Homo sapiens: one gene and its partner. The protein of the gene in region 1 purifies or fractionates together with the protein of each later gene. This does not show direct contact. Each region holds a gene or a part of one and is shown on either strand. Other genes may lie near its edges.

The links. The genes of interacting proteins can lie anywhere in the genome.
Region 2: the proteins of OAS3 (region 1) and EXOSC10 purify together in Homo sapiens (affinity purification with mass spectrometry; one large-scale study listed by BioGRID and IntAct). This does not show direct contact.

What each region holds. Positions count from the first base shown.
Region 1 is NC_000012.12:112,943,886-112,949,281, forward strand, and holds part of OAS3 (2'-5'-oligoadenylate synthase 3), read left to right. Parts: intron 1-590; coding exon 591-766; intron 767-2,857; coding exon 2,858-3,096; intron 3,097-4,060; coding exon 4,061-4,214; intron 4,215-4,975; coding exon 4,976-5,320; intron 5,321-5,396.
Region 2 is NC_000001.11:11,065,231-11,069,878, reverse strand, and holds the end of EXOSC10 (exosome complex component 10), read left to right. Parts: intron 1-148; coding exon 149-320; intron 321-1,172; coding exon 1,173-1,234; intron 1,235-1,794; coding exon 1,795-1,871; intron 1,872-3,130; coding exon 3,131-3,161; 3' UTR 3,162-3,261; downstream 3,262-4,648. UniProt on the Homo sapiens protein: Catalytic component of the RNA exosome complex which has 3'->5' exoribonuclease activity and participates in a multitude of cellular RNA processing and degradation events.

The DNA.
Region 1 (5,396 bases):
GTATATTTTGTTGGCCAGGCTGGTCTCGAACTCCTGACCTCAGGTGAACCTCCCACCTTGGCCTCCCAAAGTGCTGGGATTACAGGTGTGAGCCACAGCGCCAGGCCTGTAGTAAAAAATATCAACAACCACTGCTAAAGGATCAGGGCTTTTTGCCTTTTATTTCTTGGGCATCGTTTTCCTCTCCGTGACACCTCTTAATTAAGGATATGTAGAGTGGTGTTTTGAGGAAGGCTCAGGGAGGAGAGAGTTGCCAGGCTGCAGGCACTGCTGACTCAGCTGGAAGCAACTTTCCTGTTTAACCATCTTGGAATGCAGCTGCTCCTCTTTGAGCTGTTGCTCTAGGGACTGCCTGGCCATTTGGGATGGAGGGACTCTCCCACTGCATTCTGGAGTGCCGCTCTTCTTCCCTGCCTCCTGAAAAGCTCCAGGCTCTCTTCCCAGTCCCCCGACTCCCATGTTACCAGATTTCTTCCCCTCTGAATTCTTCCCACTCTCTCTCAGCGCCCCAGGCTGAGCTCGGCACCAACACCGCCCTCCATCCTGTGTCCTCAGTGCCCTCCCTAACTCACAGCGCTTCACACCAACAGGTCAGGCCGGCTCCGGCGTCAAACCCAAGCCACAAGTCTACTCTACCCTCCTCAACAGTGGCTGCCAAGGGGGCGAGCATGCGGCCTGCTTCACAGAGCTGCGGAGGAACTTTGTGAACATTCGCCCAGCCAAGTTGAAGAACCTAATCTTGCTGGTGAAGCACTGGTACCACCAGGTGAAGCCACTTGGAAGGGTTTCTCCAGACATGTGACTGTTTGCTTTGTGCTTTCATAGTCGTGAAACTGTTGTCTTACATTTAGTGGCCATTCATGTTCTCTCTCTGGGAATTGTCTGTTTATGTCCCTTGTGCATTATTTTCTCTTGGGTTAGCTGTCTTGTTACTGATTTGTTGAAGCTCTTTATATATTGTGGATACTGATCCTTATTTAGTTAATATAATGCATTCTTCCAATAGTCTTCCAGTCTGTGTCTTGGGCTTTTGCTTTGTTTAAAGGTTATTTGTAGGACAAAATATCTACAGTTTAATGTACTCAGATATATCCTTTGAAAAATGAGTTATTCTTTGTGTGTCTTAAGAAGTCTTTCCCTATCCTGCCAGGTGCAGTGGCTCATGGCTGGAATCCCAGCACTTTGAGTGGCCGAGGCAGGTGGATCACTTGAGGTCAGGAGTTCAAGACCAGCCTGGCCAACATGGTGAAACCCTGTCTCTACTAAAAATACAAAATGTAGCCGGGCGTGGTGGTACACACCTGTAATTCCAGTTACTCGGGAGGCTGAGGCAGGAGAATCTCTTGAACCCAGGAGGCAGAGGTTGCAGTAAGCCAAGATTGCACCACTGCACTCCAGCCTGGGTGACAGAGCCAGACTCCATCTCAAGGAAAAAAAAAAAAAAAAAAAAAAGAGGTCTTTCCCTGTCCTGACTTTGTAAAATGACTCTTTCATATTTCCTGCCATCATATTGTTTCCTATTGTATTTCTGTTCATATTCAGGGCTTTGGCCTGTCTGGTATGGTATGAGGTATATGCGGAGTTGGTACACTTCCCTCCCTAGCCTCAGGGATGCTCCCTTGCTCTGTTCATGTTTGTTGCCAGACTCTTATGCACTGGGGAAAGTGTGCCCAGCCTATGCCTGGAGATGGGGGAACAGGCTCCCCCAAAATCTTGCAGCACATGGACCAGTCATCATAAGCAGGTCTCTCAAGGAAGAGATTCTGGATTCCAGTTCTGGCTCAGCCATCTTCTTGCTGTGTGACCCTGGACAAGTTCCTAGCCTTCTCTGGGCCTCTGTTTCCTCCACTTGCACATAAAGAAATATATGCATCGGCAAATCTTACTCAGGTTCTTTCCATGTAAGATTCTCCAGGGGCAGAAAATGCTAATAGCCTGGTACTTCCTAAAAGGGCAAACTGCTGGGTATGGTGGCTCACGCCTGTGGTCCTCTCCACGCAGGAGGCTGAGGCGTGAAGATCACTTGAGCCCAGGAGTTCAAGGCTGCAGTGACCTAAGATTGAGCCACTGCACTTCAGCCTGGGCAACAGAGTAAGACTCTGTCTATAAATTAATTAATTAATTAATACAACTATGGAGCCAGCCTGGTTGGGCGTTAGAAATTCTATCTTGATCTGGGTGGTGGGTACACATGTGCACCCACGCATGTTTGTCACCCCAGAGAGAGGGGGTGAGCGGAGGGAGTGTGGAGATGCTGGGTGCTTCTAGCCAGGGGGGTCACTTTCTGGCATGCTGAAGCATCCCCTCTGGAGTTACCCAGAGGCCTGGGATTCTTGCCTTGGCATGGAGTAATCCCTCCCTGGTACGTGGAGATCCCAAGTATATGGTGCACAAATAGAAATCATGCATTTTGGGATGGGGGATAGACGGCTGGAGTGAGGAGGGAAGGACAGAGTTCTGGCCCGCTGCCCCACCCCACTCCAGGGGTGAAAGGGCGACAACTTGGTGTCCTTCTCCAATCAGCCACGCAACTGGGACCCCAGATCTGCTTCACCTTTATTTGAGGATAGATAGCAATTTCAGACTACCCTTGGCTTCTCTCTGACTGCTCCCTGCCTCCTTGGGACTTGAAACTTACACCCCTCCCTCCCACCACTCCCCCATCATATGAGCCAACCACTTGGCTGAAGCTACCAGTGAGGGCTGGTGAGAAATGCCACTTGTTCTTGGAACAGGCTTGGAACACAGCATCTTGCCTCAGGCTCGGCCTGGAAGGTCCCCAGTCTGGTTATGCAGAGAGCTGGCTCTCTTTCCTCCCCTTCTTCCTTCTGAGTCCCCTGCCGATGCCCTCTCACAGGTGTGCCTACAGGGGTTGTGGAAGGAGACGCTGCCCCCGGTCTATGCCCTGGAATTGCTGACCATCTTCGCCTGGGAGCAGGGCTGTAAGAAGGATGCTTTCAGCCTAGCCGAAGGCCTCCGAACTGTCCTGGGCCTGATCCAACAGCATCAGCACCTGTGTGTTTTCTGGACTGTCAACTATGGCTTCGAGGACCCTGCAGTTGGGCAGTTCTTGCAGCGGCAGCTTAAGAGACCCAGGTACTTCCTAATAGCCCACCATCTGCTCTCCTGTCCCGGGGCCAGGGGGAGATAATTGACAAGGACAAAACCGGTTACATCTACTGAGTGCTTGGGTATAGAGGCCAAAGCAAAATGCTACATGTACATGTTTTAATTCACTGGACTCAGCCCAGATGCACATTAGAATTACCTGGGGGAGTTTTAAAAAATATACCAGTGCCTGGCCCCACAAGTTTTATGCGTGAATGTTTTGCTGATGTATAGCAGAAAGTGCATGTTCTGATGACTGTGTGAAGACCGCATACTTTGAAACCACCACCCAGATCATGGTAGAATATTTCCAGCACCCCACTGGTCCCCTCTCAGTCAGTAACCTTCCAAAATAACCCCACTTACACTTTTATAATTACAGTTGTGCCTTTTCTTAAATCTTATTTAAATGGAATCATGCCACATGTACTTTTGTGTCTGGCTTCTCGTTCTGTTCTCAAGATTAAGTCTTTGAGATTTAGCTATATAGTTGTGGATCATTCTTTTTTGTTGCTGTATAGTATTCCATTGTGTGAATTTATCAAAATATGTTGTCTATTCTACTGATGATGGACATTTGAGTTCTTTCAACTTGGAACTATTACAAATAGGGCCATCATAAACATTCTTGGACATGTTTTTTTGGTGCATATGCATATCTGTTGGAAATATACCTAGGAATGAAATTGCTGAATTGTAGGGTGTAACTCAAGAGCCCTTGAGAGTGGATCCTGGTATCTTGTGATTCCAACGTGCAGCCAGGGTTGACAATGATAAGCAGGCAATGTTGTTTTCCTCATTTTGCGGATAAGGAAATCGAGGCTCAGAGAGGGTAAATCATTTGCCCCAGGTCACACAGCTGGAAAGTAGCAGAGATGCGATTGGAACCAGGTCCGTTTCACTCCAGAGCCCTCTTGCTAACCAGAACCTTCTTGTCTCTCTGAAATTGCAGGCCTGTGATCCTGGACCCAGCTGACCCCACATGGGACCTGGGGAATGGGGCAGCCTGGCACTGGGATTTGCTAGCCCAGGAGGCAGCATCCTGCTATGACCACCCATGCTTTCTGAGGGGGATGGGGGACCCAGTGCAGTCTTGGAAGGGGCCGGTAAGTGAGGGGGCCCCAGGACCCTTGGGTTTTGCACTTTGTTTATGTGTCCAGTGTTTCCTGAGCATCTACTATGTGCCATATGGTGTGGAACAGGCTTTAAAAAGCAGGGGTGGCCAGGTGTGGTGGCTCACGCCTGTAATCTCAACACATTGGGAGGCCGAGGTGGGCAGATTACCTGAGGTCAGAGGTCAGGAGTTCGAGACCAGTCTGGACAATATGGTGAAACCTTGTCTCTACTAAAAATACGAAAATTAGCCAGGCATGGTGGTGGGTGCGTGTAATCTCAGCTACTCGAGAGGCTGAGGCAGGAGAATTGCTTGAACTAGGGAGGCGGAGGTTGCAATGAGCTGAGATCACTCCATTGCACTCCAGCCTGGGTGACAGAGTAAGACTCCGTCCCAAAAAAAAAAAAAAAAAAAATGCACAGGGCATCAGGCATGTAAAACAGTCTTATCACCAAGCTCAAGCTGAAACTGCCCGGGGGAAGGAGTCCTTTGTTTTTCTGCAGCTATGGTCTGGTTACCAGACCTTTCTGCCCATCACAAGGGCACCCATTTTGCAGTTTATCCCTCCAGAAAGGCACCTTTTTCAACTCTGCCCAAAGATGGCCATGTGCGTTAGCCATGGCCCTCCCACTTCCCCTCTCTGAGCCTCAGTCACCCTGACTGTACAAAGGGCGGGAGCTGGGGAGAGAAGGCATTGGGTTGATGCAGAAACCACTGCGCCTGGCTGAGGCAGCTCCTTCAATGACCTTCCAGGGCCTTCCACGTGCTGGATGCTCAGGTTTGGGCCACCCCATCCAGCTAGACCCTAACCAGAAGACCCCTGAAAACAGCAAGAGCCTCAATGCTGTGTACCCAAGAGCAGGGAGCAAACCTCCCTCATGCCCAGCTCCTGGCCCCACTGGGGCAGCCAGCATCGTCCCCTCTGTGCCGGGAATGGCCTTGGACCTGTCTCAGATCCCCACCAAGGAGCTGGACCGCTTCATCCAGGACCACCTGAAGCCGAGCCCCCAGTTCCAGGAGCAGGTGAAAAAGGCCATTGACATCATCTTGCGCTGCCTCCATGAGAACTGTGTTCACAAGGCCTCAAGAGTCAGTAAAGTGAGTTGGGCCAGTGGAGACACAGGGGGGACCCTATCGAGGGATCAGCGTGGGGAAGGGAAGGAGTTACAGCAAT
Region 2 (4,648 bases), on another chromosome or scaffold:
CGAAGTTCCAGCCACAGCTCCTCTCCCCACCACTGACTGTTCTTCTTACCACTTAGGCAGCTGGGTCCCAGCTATTGCTGAGGCCGGTGGAGTTCCCTGTTCCCATGTGCCTCCCTGTTCCTCCCCCACATCTGTTCCTGATCTACAGCTAGAAAATGCTGCAAAGAAGAGAGAGCGAGCAACAAGCGACCCAAGGACCACAGAACAGAAACAAGAGAAGAAACGACTCAAAATTTCCAAGAAGCCAAAGGACCCAGAGCCACCAGAAAAAGAGTTTACGCCTTACGACTACAGCCAGTCAGACTTCAAGGCTTTTGCTGGTGAGGAAGTAATGGGGCCCCATACAGGGACATCTGTGCGCGTCAGAGGGGAGGAAGCCATAAAGAGACCACAATATAGGGGCCAAGTGAGTCCTGCACAAGGCATGGTGCTAGCCAGGAATTGTTGGAGTAGTCCAGAGAGGCCGTGGCAATGTGGACAGTCGCCTGCAGCCTCATTACCACCTCCTCCATGGGAGCTCAACTCATGGTGGCCTCCATGGTGGGTTAGCAAGATCACCTGTCACTTCCACTGTGACCAGGGCGCCATCCTTCCTCACTATAACTTGTGCCCATAAACCCTCTCTCTCTCTCTCACACACACACACACACAGAATTTTGTTTGTTGAAAAATCTCAAAGCCTATGACATGAACCCCTATGGCTGCTTGGGCTGTGAGAGTCCGTCTGCTTTGAAGGGGCTACAGATGGCATTCTCGACTCTAGCAGCCTTCGGAGCAACATGCTCCTTTGGAAAAGAGAAAGCAGAGGCCAGTCCACACAATGGCCCTTTATACAGGAGTGTCGCCTCAGAGCCCGAGTTCCTTATGGCATCACCCAGCACAGAGATCAGAATGGATTTCCTTATGTGCGGGGGCCACTGCTGTAGCCACCTGCCCCTAAGGTCCTGGGACTAGAGCTGAGAGAAATGGGCCTGGTTTTCAGACTGCCCACAGGGACCAGGATCGCTATGTATTCATTTATGTGAGCCATGAGCCCTAGCCCCTCATCGTGACAGGGGTGCTCTCACAGCCAAGGCTTCCCTGAGTGTCATGGTCCCGGCCTCGCTGTGAGCCTGTGATGTGTGGTAACTCATTGACCTGACCGCAGGTCTCTCTCATCTCTTACCTTTCAGGAAACAGCAAATCCAAAGTTTCTTCTCAGTTTGATCCAAATAAACAGACCCCGTCTGGCAAGGTAAGAACTGCTCCTGGAGGATTTTAGCACGCTGGTGGCGCCTGTTTCTGACCTCCTCCTCTGCTGAGAAGACAGGCCCATCCAGGAGTCCATTCCTTTGCATATCTTTTTCCTCACCTCATTTCTTCCCAAGGGCAGACAGTACTGATCAGCTACCCCAGCAACTCATAAAACGAGGCTGTAAAAGCTGGCATGTGGCTTTAAAGGGTATTATTCTGTGTTTGCTACCATGGGAACTATAGCTGCAGGCCAAAAGCACCCCCTTTGGGGCCAGCACAAGCCTGCATTCACCCCTCGTGGGTGTTGGTGCTGGTGCCAGGGAAACAGCGTGGCTGTAGCTTCCACAGGCGCGGGGGCAGGGCTGCTTTGGGGTGCTCCTGTTCCTCTTGCAGCGCATCCTGGCGGCCTTGCCTTCAGAGACACAGAAACATCCTCTCTCAGGGGATCTAAAGTCACTCCTGTGCTGCTAGAATCTTTGGCCACCTGAGCTCAGGTGTGTTTTTCTGTGTATCTTGTGGTCAAGGTGCCCACCCAGCTTAAACGGTTTCTTTTCTTTTCAGAAATGCATTGCAGCCAAAAAAATTAAACAGTCGGTGGGAAACAAAAGCATGTCCTTTCCAACTGGAAAGTCAGACAGGTATGTGGTGGACGGCGGTGTGGCCCAGGGAGCCCAGTGAGAAAGCACCTGCCCTGCGTGGTGTGGTCCGTGGGGAGTAGCTGGGGAGCGAGTGTCCAGGGGTCTTCAACCAGGATGACTCAGAGAACCTCCCACAGCCAGGTCCCTCACGCCACTCGGAAAACAAGGGCGGGAGGTGATTTGCTCTGTGCCATACATCACAGAGCCAGGCACTGCACCCCAGGACTCAGATTCCCCTTGTTCCTGGCTCTCTAGTTACCGTGTGTCCTGGGGTCACCTCAGGGAAAATAGGTGTAAATAGTTGTGAAATTTTCCTGGACCAGCCTATTAGGAATGAGGAAAAAGTAAGCACATGTGGGTTATCCTTGTTGTTGAAGAGTGGTTTGGCTTGGTTTGGTTTTGTTTTGTGAGAGTCTCATTCTGTCACCCAGGCTGGAGTGCAGTGGCACAATCTCAGCTCACTGCAACCTCCACCTCCTGGGTTCAAGCAAGTCTCTCACCTCAGCCTCCCGAGTAGCTGGGATTACAGGTGCCTGCCATCATGCCCGGCTAATGTTTTTTTTTTTTTTCTTCTTTGAGATGGAGTCTCGGTCTGTCGCCCAGGCTGGAGTGCAGTGGCACGATCTCTGCTCACTGCAAGCTGCGCCTCCCGGGTTCACGCCATTCTCCTGCCTCAGCCTCTCGAGTAGCTGGGACCACAGGCGCCCGCCATGATGCCCGGCTAATTTTTTGTATTTTTTAGTAGAGACGGGGTTTCACCATGTTAGCCAGGATGGTCTCGATCTCCTGACCTTGTGATCCGCCCGCCTCGGCCTCCCACAGTGCTGGGGTTACAGGCGTGAGCCACCGCGCCCGGCCTGTTTTTGTATTTTTAGTAGAGATGGGGTTTTGCCATGTTGGCCAGGCTGGTCTCAAACTCCTGGCCTCAATTGATCCTCCCGCCTTGGCCTCCCAGAGTACTGGGATTACAGGTGTGAGCCACTGCACCCAGCCAAATGTTTTTGTTAAAAACATAAAATCCTAATAATTAAGCCGACCCTGAGGTCAGGGGACTTGCCCGAGGGCAGGAAAAACAGGTCTGCCTTCTCAAGATGCTGCTCAGCTCAGCCAACTCTGGTGGGCCGCCGAGTTCTCTGGGGCCCCTGAGCAAACCATTCTTCCTCTGTTCTGCATGATTAAGATTTGCACCATTTTGTAAACCATCTGAGAACATCCAACCAGCCCGGAAGAAATAACTGTTGTTTTTGTACTCTCTGCAGAGGCTTCAGGTACAACTGGCCACAGAGATAGTCCTGGAAGACACGTGGCGCCTGTGGACCGGAAGCACCAAATGCTGGTGCTGCTTTTGTACATACATATTTTTAAACCATTAAAATTCTTCCTGAAGAAAGCTGATTCCTGACTTTTATTTTGTTGCCGCCACAGCTCTGGCAGGTTGCCATCCTGTTCAGGCAACCATCTTCAGCTGTCTGTGGGCAGGTGAGTGTGCTCCGGGGGTTATGGTGACTTCTAGAAAAATCCAGAGCCGGCCGGGTGCGGTGGCTCACGCCTGCAATCCCAGCACTTTGGGAGGCTGAGGCAGGCGGATCACGAGGTCAGGAGATCGAGACCATGCTGGCCAACACGGTGAAAGCCTTTCTCTACTAAAAATACAAAAAATTAGCCGGGCATGGTGGTGGACGCCTGTAATCCCAGCTACTCAGGAGGCTGAGGCAGGAGAATCGCTTGAACCTAGGAGGCGGAGGTTGCAGTGAGCCGAGATCACGCCACCTCATTTGAGCCTGGGCAGTAGAGCAAGACTCTGTCTCAAAAAAAAAGGCAAATGCAAAGAGAAAATTTTAATCATTTGTAGTCCTGTCACACAAAGATGCTTTTTTCCTTTTTTTGAGACAGGGTCTCACTCTGTTGCCCATTCTGGAGTGCAGTAGTGTGATCCTAGCTCACTGCAGCCTTGACCTCCCAGGCACATGCCACCACACCTGGGTAATTTTTCTTATGTTTTATAGAGATGGGGTCTTGCTGTGTTGCCCAGGCTGGTCTTGAACTCCTGGCCTCAAGCAATCCTCCTGTCTTGTCCTGCCAGTGTTGGGATTTCAGGCATGAGCCACCACACCCAGCTGAGATTAACATTTTGCTGTATTTCCTTATAAGCTTTCGCTATGTGTATATAGATATATTTTTAAAATATATCTTGGGTTCAGGTTTCTATCATTTGTCACCTTGAAAGTTTGTGTTATGACACTTTTCTCAATCTAAAATTTATTTTCGCCAACCCCCATTGTTAAACGCTTAGGTTTTCATTTTTGGTACTATTCTTAATAATGCAGCACTCACTAAACTTTTATATAAATTTGTGACCCAGTCTCTGATAATTTCTTTAGAACTTCATTTTATTTTAATCCTGAGATGGGCTAATAAATCAGGAAAGCACAAAATGCCATTACTTTGGTTTTTACAAATACTTAACCTAGAAACCTTTTTTCTTTGAAATTCATCCCACAAAGTATTGAGATTGCCAACTGTATATGATAACCTTTGGGGGGTACCAAGCCAAATCACACATCACTGCCGTCAGAGAGCTCCCACTCTTGAACAGCAGAGAACAGCCCTGTCCTAAGATAGGCTGGAGTTTGTTTTAGCTAGGACTAGACTGGTTGAAAATGACAGAAAAGCCAAACTATAGTGACTTTTAACAAGAGAGATGATTTTCCTCCTCTTTTGTAAACATAGTTGGCCCAGAGCTAGTGTGATGCTCATGATCATCAGACACAGGCTCC